Linked DNA regions of Homo sapiens. The protein of the gene in region 1 interacts with the protein of each later gene in a pairwise test. Each region holds a gene or a part of one and is shown in the gene's direction. Other genes may lie near its edges.

Region 1 (7,926 bases):
CTTCCCACTGGGCACAAGGGAACTTCTCGGAGCCTAAGAGCCCAGCTCTGCAGTTCCCGCCACTGGCCTCCAAACCCCTCCCGCCTGCCCTCCTGAGGGCCTCACTTTGAGGACCCAGAGCGGTGAGGCCAGCAGCAGCTTGACCAAGGCCCCACTGGGCAGGTTGCCAAAAACAACACAGAGGTGACAGAAGAGGGGAGTGGCTGCACTGCTGGACCTTAGGGCCCTCCCCTGGGACCTCCTTAGCACCTCCCCAGTGGCACCCACCCTGTGTCCACTTCCCTAGGCACAGAGACCACCCCACAGCTCCACCTCTCCAGGCCCTGCGTCTCCTGCCCCAGTGTGCTAGTGGATGCATGAGGTTAAGGCCCTTCCTCTGGCACCCATACCCCAGGTGTTCAGGTAGCCTGGGGGACTCCTTCCTGTGCACAGGACCGAGGTGTATCTTGGGGCTAGAGCCCCTGAACTCCAGAGGAGACCTTCCCATCCAGGGAACTCCTCCTGCCTCAGTCTGGTGGCAGGAACCACCTCCTGCCTATGCTGATCTGGGATCTCAAGGTGACAAGTCCAGCGGCCTCCTGGGACAGCCCAGAGAGCCCTCCCTGAAGCCCAGAGGTCTATTCTCCCTGTGGGGGGTCGCACCACAGAGGTACCCAAGACATGGGGCTCAGGTGTGGCCGCTTGTGCATGGATCCCCCACAGCCCGGTCAGGTCTCGAGGCTAGGTGAAAATCTCCAGTAAATGAGCTCTGGCCACACCCCACCAGGACACACATGTCAGGGGAAGAGAAACTTTAGCAACTTGTTAGAGAGTGTTGAACTTTTTTTAAGCAGTAGAATTCCCTTTTTAAAAGCTATCTCGTGGCCTGGTGCGGTGGCTCATGCCTGCAATCCTAGCACTTTGGGAGGCTGAAGCGGGTGGATCACCTGAGGTCAGGAGTTCGAGACCAGCCTGACCTAGATGGTGAAACCCCGTCTCTAGTAAAAATTAGCCAGGCGTTGTGTCAGGCACCTGTAATCCCAGCTACTCGGGAGGCTGAGGCAGAAGAATAGCTTGAACCCGGGAGGCAGAGGCTGCAGTGCGCTGAGATCATGCCACTGCACTCCAGGCCGGGTGAGAAAGCAAGACTCCGTCTCAAAAAAAAAAAACAGCTATCTTATAGATATCCTCTTAAGACACGAACATAGAGGTGCTCTGGTTGAAATGTGTGCGTTTGAGGTTGGGGGTAGGGATGAAGTTCTATCTATTCAGTCTTCTCTAACCCACTGTCAGAAATCTCATGGCTCCAAAGAACACATCAGAAAGACCATCTGCTAGAAGGCAACTCCACGAAGACAGGAATTTGGGTCTGTTTTGTTCACTACTATGATCCAGTGCTTAGAACAGAGCCTGAGCCAGGCACAGTGACTCACGCCTGTAATCCTAGTACTAGGAGGCCTACCTAGGTGGGTGGATCACTTGAGGTCTGGAGTTCGAGACCAGTCTGGTCAACATGGTGAAACCCCCATCTCTACCAAAAATATAAAAAAAAATTAGCCGGGCATGGTGGCACACACCTGTAATCCCAGCTACTAGGGAGGCTGAGGCAGGAGAATGGCTTGAACCCAGAAGGCGGAGGTTCCCGTGAGCCGAGATCCTGCCACTGTACTCCAGCCTGGGTGACAAGCTATAGGCACTCAATAACAATGTGAATGAACGTACTTCAACCCTCTAATTTTGCAGGCCAGGAAACTGCAGCCCAGAGAGGTTAAGTGACTTGCCTAAGGACACACAGCAAGGGGGACCCAACTTTCTCTCTGGCTCTCTCACACAGAGGCACTTCTTACTGAGAACAAGACAGTCCACCCTCCTCAAATATGCAGATCACAGTGACCCACCCCCACCCACCAAGCCTCTGTGAACTGAGCGCTCGGCCTCAGCGGGATGCTCGTCCCACCCGGTACTCACTTGTCTTTGTGGCCTTGACCTTCGCCACCAGTTTCTGCACACCGGTCACATCTCCATTCTTGACGGCGAGGATCAGGTCCTGTTCACGACCCATACTGGCTCCTGGGCTGAGCTCTACACTCAGGAGTCCAGGGCAAAGGCAGGCAACGGGTCCAAGCTGGGGCGTCAGGGCGCCATGCCACAGCCCCTTGGAGGGCTCCCGGTTCCGGGGGAGCAAGTCAGGTGTCCCAGGCAGTGGGCTCCTCGTCAGGTACTGAGGGATACTCCCAAAGGTGCTCCGTGAACTGCCACCACACGAAGGAAAGCTAATCTTTGAGGGGGTGAAGGCTACATGGAAATCTGGATGGATATCAGCTTGTGGCTTCCGACAGCTCCAGGATGGGCTGGGACTGGGCACACCAATCTTCCCGGCTTGGCTGTGGAACACCAGTGCCCACCCAGAGAGCAGCCAGCATTCCCTTGGGCCTCAGGCAGCAGCGGTGCACTGGTCTCAGGGCTCTGGAAAAAGCACGGGGCCTCTGTCGAATGCTGGGCCACAGCCTGCAAGGGTCCCAGAAGTGGAGTGCAGAGGATGAGCAGGACAAGACCTCCAGGGAGCCCCCAAGCCACCCTGGCTCCCCTCGGAGTCGATGGTGATGCTGAGCCACTGAAAGTGGGGAGGAAGCTGCTATGCATGAGAGGAGTATTGGTGGGGGGGAGGTGGCATTCTGGGAGGGGGAGGCTGAGTCACTGGGGCCCCAGGGCACCTGGCAGTACCTCAACCTTGGGCAGGAGGGGCCCTGGCAGCATGACATACTGGGGCAGGCCGGGCCAGCAGCCTGTTCTCCACAGCCCGAGGCTCCGACACCCACAGACAACTGGCGGGCCAGGAGGTGGGGCCGGGAGGGTCAGGCACAGGCAGGCGGGCAGGGGTCACTCCCTGTCAAAGGCACCAGCCCCCAGATTCCTCCCTACGGAGGCTTCAAGGCTTCGCTTTAATGGCTGGATGCCCTAGTCCTAGGACTCTTTGTGAACGGAGAGCATGAAGTGCTTCTGGCCCCCCATTTCTGGGGGCTCTGCCTGCTAGAGAGGGAAGCTGCACAGCACCTGTTGCTGACCCGCCCTCGCCCCTTGTGTCGGGTGGAGGAGCAGCTGGGCAGAGAACAGAGAGAGCTGGGGCACTGCTGACAAACGGGGCTCCCAAGCCCCCCAAGCCTGAACCTGAAGCCCAGACCCTGGACTCCACCGCAGAGAAGCTTACGTCAGTTTCTCGGTGGCAGCGAATTTACTGCCAGAGTCTTGTGGCATGAGATCCGCGCAGGCCTGGGGCCCTGGCCGGGAACCCCTCACTCCCCAAACGTCCCAAGCCCAACCCAGGGGCACTCCCACGCGGAGCCCGCGGCCGACACGGGCGGAGGGCGCCCTTGGCAGTGCCTGGGGTCGGGCTGGCTCCCCCGCCCCCCGGAATGTCCCTCCAGCGCCTCGCAACCCCCCAGCCCAGCCCAGCCCAGCCCAGGCCCACCGGGGAACAAAGCGGCGGGAGAAGCCGGGCGGGCCAAGCGCCCGAGGTATAAACGCGGAGGATGGAAAAAGGGGCGCGAGGAGGACGGAAGGAGCGGGGAGATGGAGGTGCCCGCCGACCCCGCAAGAAAAGTTAGTTTGCGCCCGCCCCCAGGGGCGCTGACCCCCAGCGCGGGCCCCGCAGCCTCACCTCTCCCGGCCGCCCGCCGGGGTCCGGCTGGCCCTGCTCGGTCCCTGGCACTCAGGACGGTGGCTCCCACTCCCCCCTGCCCCCCTTTCTCCTTCTCCTTTTCCAAGGCCGGCTCGGCGCCTCCCGCAGGAAATCCCGCCCCTCCCCCCTCCCTCCCGCCGGATCGGGAACGGAGGGACCGTCCCGGCCGCGCAGTCAGGCTGTCAGTCAGCACCGGCGGCTCCGCCCCCATCCGCGCCAGATCCCGCCCCAACTCGTGCCCGCCCGGACCGGGGGCGCTGACCGGATCAGCGCATGCGCCCAGGTGAAACGGAGGGGCGGGGGGCGCGGGGGCAGAGGTGACCTGGGGCTCTGGACTTAGACCCAAGGGCTAGACACCCCGGGTCTGACTGGTGGGAGAGAAGACGTAATGTGAAGGGGGTTGGCAACCAAGACGCGGGACCCCACTTGCAGTACCCCCCGTCTGCGGCCGGCGTCGCCCACCCGCAGCCGCCGGCCGGGCAATGGCACCACCTAGCGGACGGCACCAGTGCGGGGACCCCAGCCTCGAGGAGGCGCTCGTGCCGGGCGGAGGTGGCGCTTCAGCACCGTCGTGGGCCGGACAGCGCCTCCCGCCCCCGGCCCTCGAAACCTGGCTTCGGAGCCCAGCCGTAGGGACCGGACGGAAGACACCGAAGGAATGGCGAACCTCCCCGGACCGCTCCTGACAGTTCCCGGGTGGCCTTCGGCCTGCAAAGTCGGAATTTGCACACCCTCCGCTCGTCCTTCCCTGAGCCCTTCTGCCCTCCTTGCCCAGCCCGGGCGGTGGGGACTAAGCAGCGCGAGGCTGCAGAGGGGCGGTCACAAGTGTGACCATTCGCACTGCACTCCAGACGCCGGCTCCTCAGGCTTTACTGGAGAGAAGCCCCGAGGAGGGCTAGGGGCAAAAGAGGGGCCTTCTGCATCTCCAGCAACCTGCGGGCTGAGCTCCCAGACCCGGCGTCGGGGTGCGCTTCCGGGCGGGCGCTAGGACCGGGGACAATCAGGAGGGCGCAGAGCGGGCTGGGGCGGTGCAGGGGGCGGGGCTGCCGCGGCATTGCGGATCGGCGGGCACTAGGGCAGCGCGGAGCTCCGGCGGTGGGCGGGGCGTGGCGGCGCGCGCAGCGGCAGGCGGCGGCGGGATGGAGCCCGAGCCCGAGCCCGCGGCCGTGGAGGTTCCCGCGGGGCGCGTGCTCAGGTGCGGCGCGGCCCGGCCGGAGTGGGTGTCGGGGGCGCGGGGCCAGCGCGGGTAGGGAAACCGGCGCCCGGGACCCGGCCAGGCGGCCCCCGATGCGCGGCGCTGACCCCGCGTCCCCTTCTCCCCCAGCGCCCGGGAGCTCTTCGCCGCCCGCTCGCGGTCGCAGAAGCTGCCCCAGCGCTCGCATGGCCCCAAGGACTTTCTGCCCGACGGCTCGGCAGCTCAGGCCGAGCGGCTGCGCCGGTGCCGGGAAGAGCTCTGGCAGCTGCTGGCAGAGCAGCGCGTGGAGCGCCTGTGAGAGGGGCGGGCCCAGGGGTAAGGGAAGCGGGGGCGAGGCGGGCCGCGGGGTCTCCGGAATGGACTGACGCAGACCCCTCCCCACTCCTCGCCAGGGGCAGCTTGGTGGCTGCCGAGTGGAGGCCAGAAGAGGGCTTCGTGGAGTTGAAGTCTCCCGCGGTGAGCGGCGGGCTCGGGGACCGGGGACCGCCCTCCCTGCCCTCCCTGCCCTCCCTCCCTTGTGACACTTGCTCTGGGCCCCACACAGGGCAAATTCTGGCAGACCATGGGCTTCTCAGAGCAGGGCCGGCAGCGCCTTCACCCGGAAGAGGCCTTGTATCTTCTGGAGTGTGTAAGTGGGGCCCGGGAGGTGGGGAAGGAGTTGGGACCAAAGAACGGGAAGGACACGTTTTATCGGAGAAAAAGCACACACAACCCGGTCTTTAGAGAACTGATAACCAAACTTCTAAAGCAGGAGGTGGTACGTTGCAGGGAGCAGGGATTCCAGTCCACATTAGTGATGCTGCCCCACTTTCCTGGTTGGCCACATTCTTGATGCGCTGCTGAGAGGGGGAGGGGGAGGTATCAGAGCTGGGAAGTTGCCCCATTCCTCTGTGGCACTGTAGTGAGGGCTCATAAGCTGAGCTGTTGGCCCCACTTCCAGGGCTCCATCCACCTCTTCCACCAAGACCTGCCACTGTCTATCCAGGAAGCTTACCAGCTGCTGCTGACCGACCACACTGTGACCTTCCTGCAGTACCAGGTATCTGCCACCACCCCGCCTCCGGGAGCCACCCATCCACTGAATCAATGAGTATTGACAAGTACCCATAAGGTGCCAGGCACAGTGTCACATGCTGGGGCTGCAGGGCAGACGAGGGCTATGCTGTCACGAGGCTTACATTGTGGTGGTGGCCTGTTGGCTTCACATAGACCCCAGTGCTGTCAGAAGATAAGGTGGGGGAAGAGAATCCAAAGAGACTGGGCTGTTCATTCAGGTGAGAGAAGCTAGGGGCTTGTCGCAGGTTGGGGGTGGGTAGAGTTGCAGTGAGTGAAAAATAGATGAATCTCAGAAATATTTTGGAGAAAGAATGGATAGGACTGCCAATGGATTGGATGTCAGGATTAAGGAGAGAGAAGAACCCAGGATTACCGCCCATGATTTGGGCATGCACCAGTGGATGAAGGTGCTGTCATTTTCTGAGTGGGAAGAATGAAGAGGAGCAGATTTGGGAGGACAAGACCAGTCGAAAGAACTGTGTCAGATAAGTTAATTTTGAGGAGCTTCTTGGACATCCAAGTGAGTGTAAAGCAGACAGACAATTGGAATCCAAGTCTGGAGTGTGAGGAGAGGTCAAGGCTAGATGTAAATATGGGTGCCATGAGCACATGGATGGTATTTAAACTACTGGGCTGTATGGGAGTGCCATCAGAGTAGAGGGCTGGGTCTGAGCCCTGGGGCTCTCTGTGTAGGTTAGGGGGCAGATAAGAAGCAGAAACAGACCGAGGAGTGTCTGGTGATGCAGGAGAAAAACCAAAGTCGCATCACAGAAGCCAAAAGAAGGTCTTTCAAGGAGGAAGTGGTTAGCTGTGCTAAAGCCTGCTGAGATCAAGCAGGATGGGGGACATTCTTATCTATGTTCCTCTGATATGAATGCAGGGACACAAGGTTGAATATGTGGCTCCCTACCAGAAACTTCCCACCGGCATCTGTGGAGGTGTGGGGCTGGAGAGATGCCCACCACCTGCCATCATTTTGTTCACATGGTGATCGGCAGCTTCACTCCTATGAGCTTTGTATCAAAATACTCAAGTATTTCAGGGCGTGGTGGTTTTCTGGTTTCATGGCTATCAGTTTTTTTGGATTTGGCTAAATGTCATTTGTGCCGAGTAAGGTAAGTGGGAGGACAGGAATTCAGAGCCTGAGATCTTTAGGGATGGTGTTCGTAATGAAGCATGGTCCAACCTTAATCACAGGGTTTAGAATCTGGGGGTGTACAGGAGGGGCAGAGAGGGCTGTGGGGATGGCCTGTGTCTGGAGAAACCATTTGGTGTTTTCCAGAGTGGCCATCTGAGCTTTCATTTTTTTTTTTTCTTTTGAGGTCTTCAGCCACCTGAAGAGGTTGGGTTATGTGGTTCGACGATTCCAACCAAGGTAAATCCCCTTCCTGTTCCCCTTCCATATATTCTAGTCCTGGGACCTGGCTGACTAGTCTAAGGTAGAAAATGGCCTCTCCTTACCTGGAACCCTTGGCTGGAGTGCAGTTCCTTGGGCACAGACTGGGGGCGCCTGCTGGAAGCGTTCTGAGAGAGGCAGGTTGGGAGGAATCCAGGTCATTTTGTTTTATTCTGGTTTATGAACTCGAGCCGCATCTTCAGATGACCTGCGCCTGCAGCTGAGTGTGTGTGAGCACTGAGAGGCAGGATTGGAACAGTGCCTGGCACTTAGTAGGTGCGCAGGCAGGTATGTAGAGTGTATGCTTAAATGAAGGACTGGGTGAAGAATTTACCATTAGTAGGGTTTCACATTTTTCATGCCAGGTTAAATGTTTTTTCCTTCATCACCTTAGTAATCCAGCATTGGTAAAAGGCAGAGACCTTCAGACTTGGAGTGGAAACGGGTACAGCTTTTGCAGTTACAGTATGTCACAAAAGCTCTAAAGCAGGCACATCTTTTCTTTTCTTTTTGAGACGGAGTCTCACTCTGTCGCCCAGGCTGTAGTGCAGTGGCATGATCTCAGCTTACTGTAGCCTCTGCCTCCTGGGTTCAAGCAGTTCTCCTGCCTCAGCCTCCCAA
Region 2 (7,314 bases), on another chromosome or scaffold:
GTACTAATCTGCTCTGGTTTCTTAAAACTCACTCCATGCTATTGCCTTGAAGTCAATTGTGATGTCATGGGAGATTAGGGCAACTTGTCAGGGATGAACCATCACAGCAGATGGACTCAGAGATACCAAGACACCTTTGGAAGTCTAGTGCCGTTCATCAGAGATACTAAGATGGCACGACCTCCCCGGCCTGCAGCTGGTTCTCATCAGAGGCCTCATTTGGACTCTGAGCACTCTCAGCTCAGCATCTCCTGATGTTGTGGGTGGTTCAAGAGACAAGAGAAACAGATGTAGATTGGTCAGAATCTGGCTGGGGAGGTGGGAATGACATTGTGGTGCTCACAGTTTTATCGAGGAATATTTGCACCACAGCAGACCTCTGCAGGATGATGGAAGATGCCGGACTTGCTGTCAGAAGCTGGCTGGGCATCCCCCCACACAGGGAGATCTCCTGGCAAGTTGTAGAACTGGCTGACCCTCGGCTTCTCAGCTGTCTATGGAGGATCATAGCATCTGCCACGTAGGGCTGTTTTCCTGAGGTTTAAATAGGATGAGGCTTGTGAAATGGGATGTGAAATAAGAGACTGACGTGGAGGAGAAGTGCAAACAGGGAGGTGAGGTGTGCTTGAGGTTTTAAAGCAGCGGAATGTTACACAGTATTTCTGGCCTGTTCCCCGGGTCCTTTCCTGACCCCACCCTGGCTGTGAGCAAGGCAGGGCTCCTCTGTCCTGGGCAATCGGTGATCCTTGGAGCAGCGGGGAGTTCTGTCCACTGCAGAATGCCTGGCTGTCTTTTCAGGTTGTTTTAATTCCTCCTTGCTACTCTCAGCCCTCCTGCAGGCTTACAGTTCCCTCCCATTAGCTAAACAAAGGATCTCAGAGCAGTTACTTGCACCTTAGTGTGAATGATTTTGTTCACTTGTTCCGTCTCCCTGGATATTTGCATTTTCAATATAATGAGGTTGCGTTTTATGCCAGGGACAAGTTCTAGGAGACCCTGCATCATTCAAAACTAACATATTTTAAGACTAATTTTCCTGTAGGAATTAATGTAGAGTGTGTGGGGGGGGGGGTGGTATATTCTGAGAGCACATAAATCCATAACCAGTGAAGTGTATCTTTGCCTTAATGCTACTTTTTATTTTCTCAGCATTATCTTGAATACCTTGCAGAACGCTCTCTCCTAAATTAACAGCCCAGGGTATCATGGGCTCCCTTGGCCTTCCTCATAGCGTTTTGTCACATTTAACTTCCGTACCAAAGTTATTGATTTTTGGGTACATTTTTCAGCACGAGCACTGCCACTGCTACTTAATGAATACTTGGATGACATTGTTATGGGATATAAAAAAGATTTTAAATTATAATAACAGTGAATGTTAAAATAACAGCATATTAGTCCCCATCATTGCAAGAAGAAAATCCTGTGTGTGTAGCAGTGCCGAACCAGCGGGCCACCAACCAGGATGACGGGTCTATCCCAGTGGCGCTACCATCTGGCTGTGGTGAAAAGAATTTATAATTCCGTAGGCCAAGCTATTTTGAAATTAAGTGATTCTCGAGAAATTAAAACATTTTTGGTGATTGCATTATTTCACATTTTTTAATATAAAGATTGTACACAAGTGCACTATTTCCCATTTGCATAATTCAAAGTTGCATCAGACACTCCCGTGTAGACTATAAATATGCACAGAAGGGACAGACTCCTCAGAATGAAAAGGAAGGCATTTTGGAGGTTCCCCTTTGTCTTTTGGAATGACTCTCTAAGTAGTGTAGTCTCTGTGGCAGGGGCTCCGGAATCCCTACCCTTCGGGTTCAGGGCTTCAGGGAGGGAGTTGGGCCACAGTAGTTCCGGGATGACAGTGGCCACGTGAGAGAAGAAAACAGCCCGAGGAGAAGGGAAGGCACGGGTGTGTCCCCCCTCACTGTGTACACACATGTCCTGGCTGCACAGCTGCTTCATTCCTCTAGTGCCTCCCAAGATCAGGGCAGGCCGTGTTGCCCTCTGGACTTCCAAGGGGGAAGTGAGTTACTGGCCCAAGTCACTCACTCATCAAGAACACTGAAGCCAGGTCTGCTGACTCCAGGGAGAGCCTTGTAGATTGTGAGGACCGAATGCATATAAAGTCCTTAGTCAACACCAGCACATGGTAGGTGCTAACACATGTTGGCTACTATTGTTTCTAAGAGAGGGTTTTCTTGAATGGAAAGAAAGGAGAAAAGACAGAGAGGAAGTCAGGAATGTCACAGAGACACCTTCTGGGGCACACAGGTGAGCAAGCACAGAGAGCAGAGCTGCCCAGGCCAGCTGCTGACTTTATTCCGTGTGTCCTCCAGGGGCACTGTGGAGAAAAGGGCAGTATGCCTAAGTGCTGGGAGAGGAAACAAACCTTTACATTCACCTGTGCTTCCGAACACACGCACGCGCCTCTCTCTGTACCTGACTTTGAATGGAACAAACCAGACTTTAACTAACAGGAACTTGAGCTTGTTCACTCAAAATCTGTCTAGGACTTTGTGTTGATCAGTCAGTGTGTTGCCCAGAACATTCCTTAGACTAGTTTTCTCAAAAAATTTTGACTACAATCCACAGTAAAACTCATTTTACATTTCATCTCAGTACACATATTTATACAATAAAAACTAAAGTTTAATGAAATGATCTTGCCATTCCATCCCATTCTCTTCATCTGATTTCCTGTTTTAGTTTTGATCCACTAAGGTGACTTTACAGCCCACGAGTGGGTTCTGACCTATAGTTTAGAAACCTGCTTAGACACTGTTGGGTGTGCAAGCTCACCCCTGGCTGTGAGCCCAGCGACGCCAGGGCAAAGGTGACATGGCTGTGGGGAAATGGGAGACTCCTGATGAGACAGAGGGGAGGGCATCTGGGGCGACTTTGAACATGACTTCAACCTGGCTGTTCACCTTCACAGCTCTGGCAAGAACTCATGAGGATGTGTGAGCAGAGTGTTTGTCATGACAGGGACGTGTGGAATTGGGTACATTCAATCTGATGAGACTTCTGTGCAGCTGGGCTGGCAGGGGAGGGTTGAGGCAGGGAGCTGAGCAGAGAAAGGACTGCTGTCCTCACTTTTCAGTGGCTTGGGAAGGCCCGTGGTGCAGGAGTCAGTGCCATGAGAGTGGGGACCTCTCCACTCTGATGTCCCCTGTGCCTCGCGCTGTCCTGCCTACAGCAGGCAGGCTTAGGTGCAGAAAGGATGGAAGGGAGGGTGTGGGAGGAGGCGCAGCTGCTGCAGATAGGCCGAAGCCAGTAAGCAGTGGTTTTTCCTTGCAGATGACTCAGAGGCTGGAGCTAAGCGGCCCCGGACCACCATCACAGCCAAGCAGCTGGAGACATTAAAGAATGCATACAAGAACTCCCCCAAGCCTGCCCGGCACGTGAGGGAGCAGCTGTCCTCAGAGACAGGCCTGGACATGAGGGTCGTACAGGTGAGATGCCAGCACTCCTGTGCCCTCCGGGGATCCCAGGCCCGGGACAGGGGTGGAAGGTATCCTGAGTGACATCAGCTCACGGGTGGTTGGGCTCAGGGCTTGACCCCAGGGCTTTTGCCAGAACTGAAGACAGAGTTCTGAGGCCCACCTGGGGAGAGGGGGTGGGGCGCATCGCACTCCCAGACCTGTGCTCCATTCAGGCTTCAGTCTGCTTCCAGCCGCCCGCCTAGGGGGTCCTGGGGGCTTTGGGTTTGTGGTGGACGCCCCCTGAGTATGTCCCTTGTGCTTGTGTGGCAGGTTTGGTTTCAGAACAGAAGGGCCAAAGAGAAACGCCTGAAGAAGGATGCAGGGCGGCACCGCTGGGGGCAGTTCTATAAGAGCGTCAAGAGGAGCCGGGGCAGCAGCAAGCAGGAGAAGGAGAGCTCTGCAGAGGACTGTGGGGTTAGTGACAGTGAGCTGAGCTTCCGAGGTGAGCAGGGCTGGAGGGGCCAGGCCGAGGCCTTAGGAAAGTCCCCTGGGAATCTGTAATCCCTGGCACTCAGGAGGGATCTTTCTTGAGGCCTTGGCAACTCCCTCCTGAACACAGGCTTTTCCTTAAGACTTGCAGTGAAGGGTGGGGGAAATGGTAGTGGCCCTTTACCATGGGACAGGAGTAGGAAACAAGATTGCTGAGGTCTGGAAGCTGGGATGGGCCAGGCCCCGTCCTGTGGCCCCAAGGTCTCCCCTCCCCTCCTGCTGACTGGGGCCTCCCTCATCAGCCCACACAGCTATGAACAGATGACTGGGTTCCAGCCTTGTGCCCCTAGCCCCTCTCCCATCTTTGTCCCCTTTGCTGGGACACTGGCCTACTCCCATAGTCCCCTAGAGCCACCCCTTCCTCCAGTCCTGGTGGTGGGGAGGTCATGCTCCACAGGTTTTTTCCTGGGAAATCAGTACTGTGAGTGCATGTGAGATGGGGAACTGGCTTCACTTCCGAAATCCCTTTCCCCACCACTCACTTCATTCTGTCCCCTGCACACAAGCTTTGCAGCATGCACTATATTCAAATTCATGCATCAGCAAAATTGTAAATTACTGCATGTTATGAATCCTCAGGTTGTTTGCAAAGAATCATAACTGTTCTCAGGTACTGAGTTCTCAAATGTGGAAGGTCTTCTGCGGAGGGGGAAAGGGAAGAGTACTCAACTGGCGATCAGAGACCTGGTTTCCAGTGCAGCTCTGTCAAATCGATTCACTTCTCTTGAGCCCCAGTATTCCCAAGAGGAATACCATATCTTTGCCCATCTCACTGCGTTGTGGGGATCAATGAACACAACCAACTGTGGATGTGCTTGGGGAAAGCCTGGCACATTTGTATACCTGGAAGGCATGATCGTTCCCACAGGGAGCGTGTGGCTCCCGCAGAGGGCCCTGGTCATTTGGGATGACAGGTATAGGGAAAAGGCTAACTCATGGCCATTTGACAATGGAGTGGAGCCTTCATCTTCCTGCTCCCTTTAAAGAGCATGAGCTCCCCCCACCATGTTTTTTCATAAGGGGAATGGGGGGCAGGCCTCAGAAGGGATGGGGTGTTGAAGTCTAGTCTGGGGAGGCCTTATTTAGGGATTGGTGCAGAGGCCCAGGTGGAAATAGAAAAGGAAGTTTGTGGGACAGAGGATGGAACAAGTTGCCTGCCAGGACAACGATGCCCTGGGAGGACTCTAGTTCAGCCCAGAGGTCAGCTGAGCCCTAGAGGGCAGCCTCCTCTGAGAACACAGGGCCCGTGAGGCCTTGGGGACAGCTCATGGGACTAATACTCACCTTTTAGGCTTCTTGGCAGGATTGGGAAAGTCAATCTCATCTGGGCTGTTGAAGTCAACACCTAGAACATACTGGATTGTTAAGCTCATTTCTGTTGGGTGCAGGTGGGTCCCTGGGCTGACCTATCATTGGTTTCTCTGGGAATAATTTCTCAAAGACTAAAACTGCTCACCTCTGTTGGAGAGAGAAATTCTTTCAAGTGGCAAAGATTCCATTAGATCCCCTTAATGAAATTCTTTAAGAAAAAAGAAGGTTCATTTGCCTTAATCAAGTCAATTCTTTGTCCCCAGTGAAGAGCTTATTGAATACAGACAGAAACCAAGTCCTTTGATATTGAACCTCTCTTCCAGATAGACCAGAAGGATTTTGTACAGATGTCTAAGAGTGGTCCTCAGCTTCCCTGACCATATGGGCCTGCTTGCTTCCCAATCAACTAAACCAAGCCCTTTCTCAGCTTGAAAGCTTTCAGGGTAAATGTTGTCAGCATGTAGTTTCCATTTGTGATGTGGAGACATCTGACCCACCCAGCCTTAGGCATTCATCCTCCTCAGTGTAGCCAGAGTATTAGTACACGAGCCACAAGGGACCAACGAGCTCACCAAACATTTGTCCATCCTTCTGGGACCTGGGAATTTAGTCTTTGCAGGTGTTTCTTGTTTTTCTCCTTGGCCTGGGTTGGCCTCTGGATATCAGGCTGCCATATTGGTGTGTCTGACCCATGCTTGGCTGCAAGGCAGCTGCCATCCTTGGGCATCTTTCCTGGTCATGTGTGTTCCTAGGTTGTGAAGAGCAGGGGACCATCAGAGTCCTGGCAGCTGACAATAAATCTCCGTTCTTTTGTCCACAGAGGATCAAATTCTCTCAGAACTTGGCCACACCAATAGGATTTATGGCAACGTGGGGGACGTTACAGGCGGACAGTTAATGAATGGGAGCTTCTCCATGGACGGGACAGGACAATCCTATCAGGACTTGAGGGATGGGAGCCCCTATGGAATCCCCCAGTCTCCATCCTCCATATCGTCCCTGCCATCCCACGCTCCTTTGCTCAATGGGCTGGATTACACGGTGGACAGTAATTTGGGCATCATTGCGCATGCAGGGCAGGGAGTAAGCCAGACGCTGAGAGCCATGGCTGGGGGACCCACCTCTGACATCTCCACAGGAAGCAGTGTAGGCTATCCCGACTTTCCAACTAGCCCAGGCTCTTGGCTCGATGAAATGGATCATCCTCCTTTTTAAACTTCTCTCCTCCCCACCCTACCTGCCCCCCTGGCTTGAGAGAATATCTTCAAGGATCAAAAGAGACTTGCCTTTTAAGGATCGAAAGTACGCCAATGTGAATTTCCATTATTTTCAATGGAAGTCCTCCGCTGATTCCTAGAAGGCTGTGAGACCACACTAGGGCATTGTTTCCCTGGGGAAGCAGTGGGAGAGCAGACTCATCTCAGAACACAGCACAGGGGGTAATGGCCTAGAGCTCTAGGGACACTGGCTTGTTGGGTCTCTCCCCTGCTGTTCTGCTTAGGGGCTTGGCTGCTCAGTGCTTTGGTAGCACAAGGTGACTGTGATAGGCCCCCTTGGCCTTTGGGAACTTTGCTCCAACTGGTGTGTCTCACACAATGCCTCCCAAAACACTGCTCTCACCAGAACTGAGACTCCTAAGGTAGAGGCCTCACAGCCCTTGAGTAAAATAAAAGTGATTTCTGGACCATCCTTATTGAACCCTATATTTCAAAATGAAAAGATCAGTTATTAAAGGTCAGTGAACACTTTGATGGCCAGTTTGATATTAAAAACATGCCCCCTCCTTTTTTATTTTTGCTGTGAAGATATGAATTCTTTCCTACAAACCAGAGAATATGAACCTGTTTTGGTTTTTAAGTGTCCCATCTATATCATTGACTCTGATGGCAAGAGGTGGTTTTCATTGCAGGTGACTGAGGCTGAGCTGAGTAGCCCTGGACCACCGCTGCAGATTGCCTGAGTCGTCCCCTTGGTGCACAGTGTGCCTTCTTCAATTGCTTGTATCATTTATTCCACAAGACAGGCTGTG
Region 3 (7,314 bases), on another chromosome or scaffold:
ACATTTACTTGTAGTATTCTAGTGAAGAACATCAAGTGTGTGTGTGTGTGTGTGTGTCTAGCACAGTGCCTGACACATAATGGTTTGTCTTTAGAAAGATATTTTTTTGCATTAGTTTTAAATAAGTTATGCAATAATCTTCCTCTCAAAGCTTTTAATGATTTATTAGGGTTCTATCAAGCTTCTTGTGTCAGTGATTACTTATCCATTTTGATCAGTCACATGGCTTGTGCTTTATCATCTCTAAAATTTATATTTTGCTATTCTCCAGTCTTTAAAAAGCTAATTTCCTATGTAAAAAGAAAAATATTTGAAAAGTTTGCTGACAGAATAGAAATTAAAAATTTATTTTAATGTCAAGGTTCCAAAAACCTTGACATTTTGAAGCCATTGAGTTTCAAGATTTTTTTTACTGGTAATATTTTAGAAACAGTATTTGTACTGATTATATATTTTTCCCCCTCTCAGGCTGTTATAGATGCAAATATTTTTCCTGTTTTGATTGAGATTCTTCAGAAAGCAGAGTTTCGTACCAGAAAAGAAGCAGCTTGGGCTATAACTAATGCAACATCAGGAGGTACTCCAGAGCAAATAAGGTATGATATAAACTTCTTAATTGTTTTTTACATGTAAATGAGACAAAAGTTGAAATAAAACATATTTTAATTTACTGATGGAACTAAAATATTATTTCTAAGTCAGTTTGATAATATGAAATGACAGCATGTATTATATCAGTTACTCATTCACAATTTTTTTTTCCCCATTTAACGTGTAATTAACATCATTCTCCTTGATAGGCTGCTTAAGAAAAATCAGAGATTAAAAAATCCAAACGGGAACGGTCTATGTTAATTTGCAGAGTACACTGTCATGGGCATTAAATATTTTTTAATCACAAAAATATAGCTTTATTATATAGAAATGGCTAATAAATTTGAATATCCACTTACTTTAAATAAAATTGAAATAGACATTGTTTATATGGTGATGTTCTGGTCCTCATTGATTGTTAGCCTTGCCTATGGATAGTATCTTTTATTTTTCTATACTAGTTACCTTTTTTTTATATTAGCTTTTTGAGTCTAGGCTTTTTAAATTTATTTATTCTGCTGACAATGTAAATAATAGGTGCATGGGCTTTTAAGTCAGCCTGATTTCAAATCCTGCTCCTTCAGTAAAAGTTGTGTGGTCTTGACAAAGTCATTTAACCCCTCTAATCTAGTTTCTTCATTTTAAAAAATGAGTTCCAGTAATGAATAGTTATGGCAGTGTAAGTCAGCCTTCCATATCCTTGGGTTTTGCATCTGTGGATTCAACCACCTGCAGGTCAAAAATATTAAAAAAGAAAAAGACAGTAAAAAATGCCAGTACAACACTACAAAATAATGCAAATTTAAAAACACAATACAACAATTAGTAACATCATAGCAATTACATTGTTTTAGGTATTATAAGTAATCTAAAGATAATTTCAAATACTTGGAAAGATATGCATAGGTTGTATGCAAATACTATGCCATTTTATATAAAGGAATTGAGCATCTGTGGATTTTGGTATTGAGAGGAAGGGTGTCTTGGAACCAATCTCCGATGAAACCGAGGGACTGTATCTTGATAGTTAAGTGAAATTTATGTCTTTGAAGTGTCAGCACAGTGCCTAAACATATTATTAATAACTAATAGATAATTAAGAATAGCTACTGTTATTATTTGTAATCATCATAATTTTTATTATCAGTATTGATTCCTGAATCTTTTATCATGTACTTTCACTCTTTTTTATCTCCCATAGCAAAGTTTCACTTACACCTCTACTAAAAGCTTCTACAGAATCGTCTTGTTCGGAGGATCCCTCCATGAAACTAGACTTCTTAGAAAATATTTTCTAATGCATATTTGATTTATTTTTCAATTTATAAAACAAGTCAAACTACAGTGCTATTTTATAAATCACATAATTTTGAAATCTACCTATTGTGAAATTGTCGTCTTTTATTGCCTTCATTTGTAGTATTATCTTGCTCTCTCAAATTTGTATAGCTGTATATTGCTAGCATCTGTCTCTGCCTTTTATTTTCTATTCTATCTCTTTGCTTTCATCAGTATTTCCACTTTGTGTCATGGATACAAGCAGTAATAAATGAAGACCCTTCCTTTGTTCTATTTTGTATTTTTTTAATGTTGATGTTACTTTTATTTTATTTGGGCTGCAAGTTTGTTCACCTGCAAATAGTTGTATTTTTTCAATTAATTTTTGTGGTTATATCTATTCTGTATATTATTGCTTTAATTTATTAGTATGGATTAAGTATCCAAACTGAGATAATTATTTTTCTAACCACTTTTATCATTTCATTAAGTTTGCATATTTGGGAAAAGACCTCTTGATCTCAGATTAAGTTATGCATCCATACCACTAGTTGAGTGCCTACTATTGCCAGTTATTGTGCTAAGTAAGTCATTTCAGTTATTGAGCACCAGCAATGTGTCTGGTACTTTCATGTATTTTATCTCCTGTAATCTCTTAACTATGAGGCAGTTATTCATTCAACAGATATTTTTGACCAATTACAGTACAGTATAGGGCAAATGAGTGCTCTGGTGAAGGTATATACATCTTTTTTTTTTAAGAGGGACAGAAACTTTTATTAAATGTCTATTGTGTTCTTACAACTACTCTCTGAAGTTGGTACTATTATTATTCCCATTTTTAAGATGGGGAAACTGAGACACAGAGTAATTGCTCAAGGTCACACAACTAATAAGGGGTGGAATTGGGACTTGAAGGCACACAGCCTGGCTTCATAGTATGTTTTTAACCTTTGTACTTAATATGGACTTTTTGCCAAGTGAACAAATCAGTTACTTCATTTACATTATAGAGTACAGAAAACCAGCCAATAACTAGAAAAGGACATGCATTCAGAAATTAAAGAATTTTTTTGTGAATATTATTTATGAACATTATTCACAAGAGAGCCTGTTTTGTTCCTACAGGCCTTCTATCCTTCTGAAACACAGTATATGTTTCAGAACATTAGCTGTGATTGTTTTTATGGGAAATTTTCTCAAGTTTAATTTAGATGTCTCTTCTTTCTTTCCATTTCTGTCTACCCCCATATGACCTCCGTGTGTGTGTGTGTGTGTGTGTGTGTGTGTGTGTGTGTGTGTCTGTGTGTAGGCTTGCCTTTAAAAAAAAAAAAAAACAACCTTTCGAACCTACGTTTAATGCTCAGATGAGCACCATGAAAAACAGGCCGAAGTACCAGTTTGTGTCTGTATTTTATAGTCTTTGCAAGACCATTTATTGCTAATTATGTTAAATTAGAGAATAGGTGAGTAAAGAAAATTTTAAGTTTCCTATGTGAGAATTTAAATGTGTGTAATGTTTGCATTTGTATAGGAATACTTTTTCTTAATTGCTTATGTAACATTTCACTATGAAAAATATTTTTGTGTCATTGTTACAAACAGTACTTAAGTCTTTTTAAATCTTTTTTTCCCTGTTTCTTCTCTTTTATATTAATCTGAAGGTATTTGGTAGCTTTAGGCTGCATTAAACCACTTTGTGATCTTTTGACTGTTATGGACTCCAAAATAGTCCAAGTGGCTTTAAATGGACTTGAAAATATTTTACGTCTTGGAGAACAAGAATCTAAGCAGAATGGAATAGGCATTAATCCATACTGTGCTCTCATTGAAGAAGCATATGGTAAGCAATCAGTTAAAAATTTGCAATTATAGTCAGTTCTTATATCTGTCATACTTTCCCCTTCCAGTTCCCTACAATTTTTTTGTTGTAAAAGCAGTATGTATTTTTTTAAGTTTTAAAATGTCACCCGTAATTTTATTACCCTAACAATTTATTTTTATTATTTACCTTTTTTTAACATTGTCTGTATGCACAAATACTTTACATTGACTTAATTGTATTGTATGTATAGTTTTATGTTCTACTTTTTAACATTTTGGAGAAATTTTACATTTCTACATAATTTTTATTATAATGGCCACATAATGTTATGTATATACTATATATATATAAAAATATGTAATTTTTTTTTTTTTTTTTTTTGAGACACAGTTTTACTCCGTCTCCCAGGCTGGAGTGCGGTGGTGTGGTCTTGGCTCACTGAAACCTCCACCTCCCATGTTCAAGCAATTCATGTGCCTCAGCTTCCTGAGTAGCTGGGATTACAGGTGCATGCCACCATGCCCGGCTGATTTTTGTATTTTTAGTAGAGACGGGGTCTCTCCATGTTGGCTAGACTGGTCTCGAGCTCCTGGCCTCAAGTGATCCAGCCACCTCAACCTCCCAAAGTGCTGGAATTACAGATATGAGCCACCATGTCTGGCCATAATGCTACATATTGAGTCAAGTTTTAGCCATTTGAATGGAAGTTTAACCATAACCTGTTGTTGACCATTAGTTTGTTCCCAGTTTATCACTTTATGTATACCAAAATAAGCATCTTTCTGTGTATATGTTTATTTCTTTTATGGAATTAATATCTGGGGATAAATTTTCAGGAATACAGTTGCTGAGTCTTAGGGCACTGACTTCTTTTTAAGCTTTTGATGTCTTCTCATTTTGCTTTCCAAAGGCCTGTTGCTGACAGTGTCACTGGCATTGTATGAATCTATTCTACAACCTCATACTTGTTTTGTTTATTTTGTGGACTCAGCAGATGTAAAATAGTACACCAAGTTGCTTTTATGTACATTTTTTGGTTTATTTCCTATAGATAGTAGTATGTATTTTTCATGAGTTAGTCTGTGTCCTTATCCAAATTGCATATTTATTGTACTTTGTCTGGTTATCTATTTGACTTTTTTTTTTGGTAAAAATTTGAATTTTATTTTATAGTAGTTTATTTTGATATGACTTTTTCCTCGGTCTATTTTTTTTCAGATCATCCATTGAACACATTCTTTTATTTTAATAAAACATACCATGTTCATTTATGTTTAAATAACTCAGTCTAATTTTCTATTCTTTCAAAGTTTACAAAGTCATTGCCTCCACAGAGATTTGATGAAAATTAATTTTTTTATTTGCCAAGTTTTAAAAATTAGGTTCTTAAAACATTTAATCATATGGAATTTATTTTAGATAAGGCATGAATCTAAATTGATTTTCTTTTATTTGCATTAAATATTCACTTTTCTGTATTAAGTCCTCTTACATTGTATGGGTGATTCAGACTTTTATTTTTGATTCTTAAAGCCCATGATATCACTTTGTCTTTCTTTCAAATTATATAACATCACTGGATAAGACATTACATGAATACAAGATATTAGTCACTGATTTAAGAATATTGTCTTACTACAGTCATTATTTTGACCCCGAGTCAGACTAGGGTTTGAGCTATTCTGTGATTGTGTATAGATAGGACTGCTTTGCTGCTTTTTTTTCTGTGATAATCTGATTGAAGTCGTTTATCTGTAATTAAATGAAATGTATTTTCAGCACTACCCAGACTTACGTGTAGAGCTTTTTCTGATAAGCAGTAAAATCGATTGCTATAGATTCTTCTCATCTTTTCAAAATGAGGCCTTTCAGTTTCAATTGTAGATTGTAATTCTTTTAAACCGCACAACAGCCATATGTTTTTTATTGTATGGGTTTGGAAATTTTACACATTTATTTCATAGTGATACTCTCTGGCTCAGCGTGTTTTATTTTCTTCATTTAATTTGTTTTGTTGCTTTCCCTTTTTGGGCTTTGTTAATTACTCTAGAAAGGACCTGTGGAGTTAATCTAAAACTGCCATTTTACAGTTGAGAAACAGAAGAACTAAACTTACCTGGCCAAGATCACACACCTAGCAGGGTGGTGTCTGTGATCTTACTCCCAGGCCTATGGTCCTTCTTCGTATGACACTGCTACATACTCTCATTCTTGAAGTATAAATCGTAAGTGATGGCTATCGGTATGTGCAACAGTTAGATTAAAATAGTCCCGTTGCCAGTGAGGTGATAGATGATGTTCACTTATTATTTTGATTTAAACATATACTGAAATTGTAGTAACAGTTTGTTTATATATATATATATATATATATATATATATATATATATATATATATACTTTGTATAACAGGTCTGGATAAAATTGAGTTTTTGCAAAGCCATGAAAATCAGGAAATTTACCAGAAGGCATTTGATCTGATTGAACATTACTTTGGTGTAGAAGAAGATGACCCCAGCATTGTACCTCAGGTGGATGAAAACCAACAACAGTTTATATTTCAGCAGCAGGAAGCACCAATGGATGGATTTCAACTTTAACTTACTGGAGGAAAAAAAATTTATGGCTAAAAAGGGTAGCTTCAGGTAACTCCTCTTTGTTGCCAATGTAAGAATGTTTGTTTTTTTACATAGAACAGTAAAGAGAATTTGATGCACTTTTAGAAAGCAAAATGAAACAAAAATTTCCATTCAGATGCAACCTTTCATTGTAGTTTGTTGTTGTTTTAGTTTTGTTGTTGTGCCTGTATTTATATCTTCTATTGTTTGGATTTTTGTATCTATTTGTGAATAATTGAATATGCAATTATTTAGTAATTTAAGCTTGAAAAGGAGAATTTTGGTGAAGCATTACTTAGTAATTCTGAATTTTTTCAAGCATTCTTGGAAACTGCACATTAGCAGTAAACCTATTGATAATTGCATTTTGGCAGTAAGTCTTACACATCTAATCTCTACTAAATCTACCTCTATCTTGAAGCAGAAATAAAAACAAAAAAGCTTCAGAAGCATGAAATAATGCAAATGCTAAATTAGAATGTGAAAATATTTATTACCTTAAATTATACATATCACTGTGCTGTAGGTTATACTTTGCAAAAAATTGCAACAGAAAACCTATAAAATTTATTTATAAAACAGAAGAAATATTATACTGATAATCCATTAAAATGTGGCAATTGTGAAGGGAGAAGCTGTTTTTCATGTTGAACACATTAAAAAGATTACTTTATAAAATGTTTAAATATTTCTGTTTTTAACATATAAGTGCTATGTATATTAGTATATTTTGTATTTCAACCAAATATGCTACCATTTTTGAAATAGTGTTTTATTGTTTTTCACTCATTGTTTTAAAGAGCATCATGACAGAGATGTCATCATGAATCTAAAGTAGTGCTGCATATCTAAAATAATAACTAATTATTTCTCTGATTTTTCAGAGCAGTAATTGAAAAGTTTCATTTTCTGTATAATAGTACTAGTTTAAGTTTAAGTACAAGTACAAGTTTAGGTACTCGAATGACAAAATTACCCTGAAGAAATAACCTTATTATG

The links.
Region 2: the proteins of TSEN54 (region 1) and LHX4 interact in binary tests that used the Homo sapiens proteins (3 or more experiments, as listed by UniProt).
Region 3: the proteins of TSEN54 (region 1) and KPNA5 interact in binary tests that used the Homo sapiens proteins (3 or more experiments, as listed by UniProt).

What each region holds. Positions count from the first base shown.
Region 1 is NC_000017.11:75,511,764-75,519,689, forward strand, and holds the start of TSEN54 (tRNA-splicing endonuclease subunit Sen54), read left to right. Parts: upstream 1-4,764; 5' UTR 4,765-4,797; coding exon 4,798-4,853; intron 4,854-4,982; coding exon 4,983-5,147; intron 5,148-5,245; coding exon 5,246-5,309; intron 5,310-5,397; coding exon 5,398-5,481; intron 5,482-5,793; coding exon 5,794-5,892; intron 5,893-7,231; coding exon 7,232-7,284; intron 7,285-7,926. Other genes in the region: CASKIN2 (caskin-2), read right to left, coding at 1,948-2,041.
Region 2 is NC_000001.11:180,268,080-180,275,393, forward strand, and holds part of LHX4 (LIM/homeobox protein Lhx4), read left to right. Parts: intron 1-1,573; exon of another isoform or gene 1,574-3,300; coding exon 3,301-3,455; exon of another isoform or gene 3,456-3,755; coding exon 3,756-3,927; exon of another isoform or gene 3,928-6,105; coding exon 6,106-6,500; 3' UTR 6,501-7,314. UniProt on the Homo sapiens protein: May play a critical role in the development of respiratory control mechanisms and in the normal growth and maturation of the lung. Binds preferentially to methylated DNA.
Region 3 is NC_000006.12:116,726,027-116,733,340, forward strand, and holds part of KPNA5 (importin subunit alpha-6), read left to right. Parts: intron 1-468; coding exon 469-596; intron 597-3,536; coding exon 3,537-3,715; intron 3,716-6,109; coding exon 6,110-6,297; 3' UTR 6,298-7,314. UniProt on the Homo sapiens protein: Functions in nuclear protein import as an adapter protein for nuclear receptor KPNB1. Binds specifically and directly to substrates containing either a simple or bipartite NLS motif.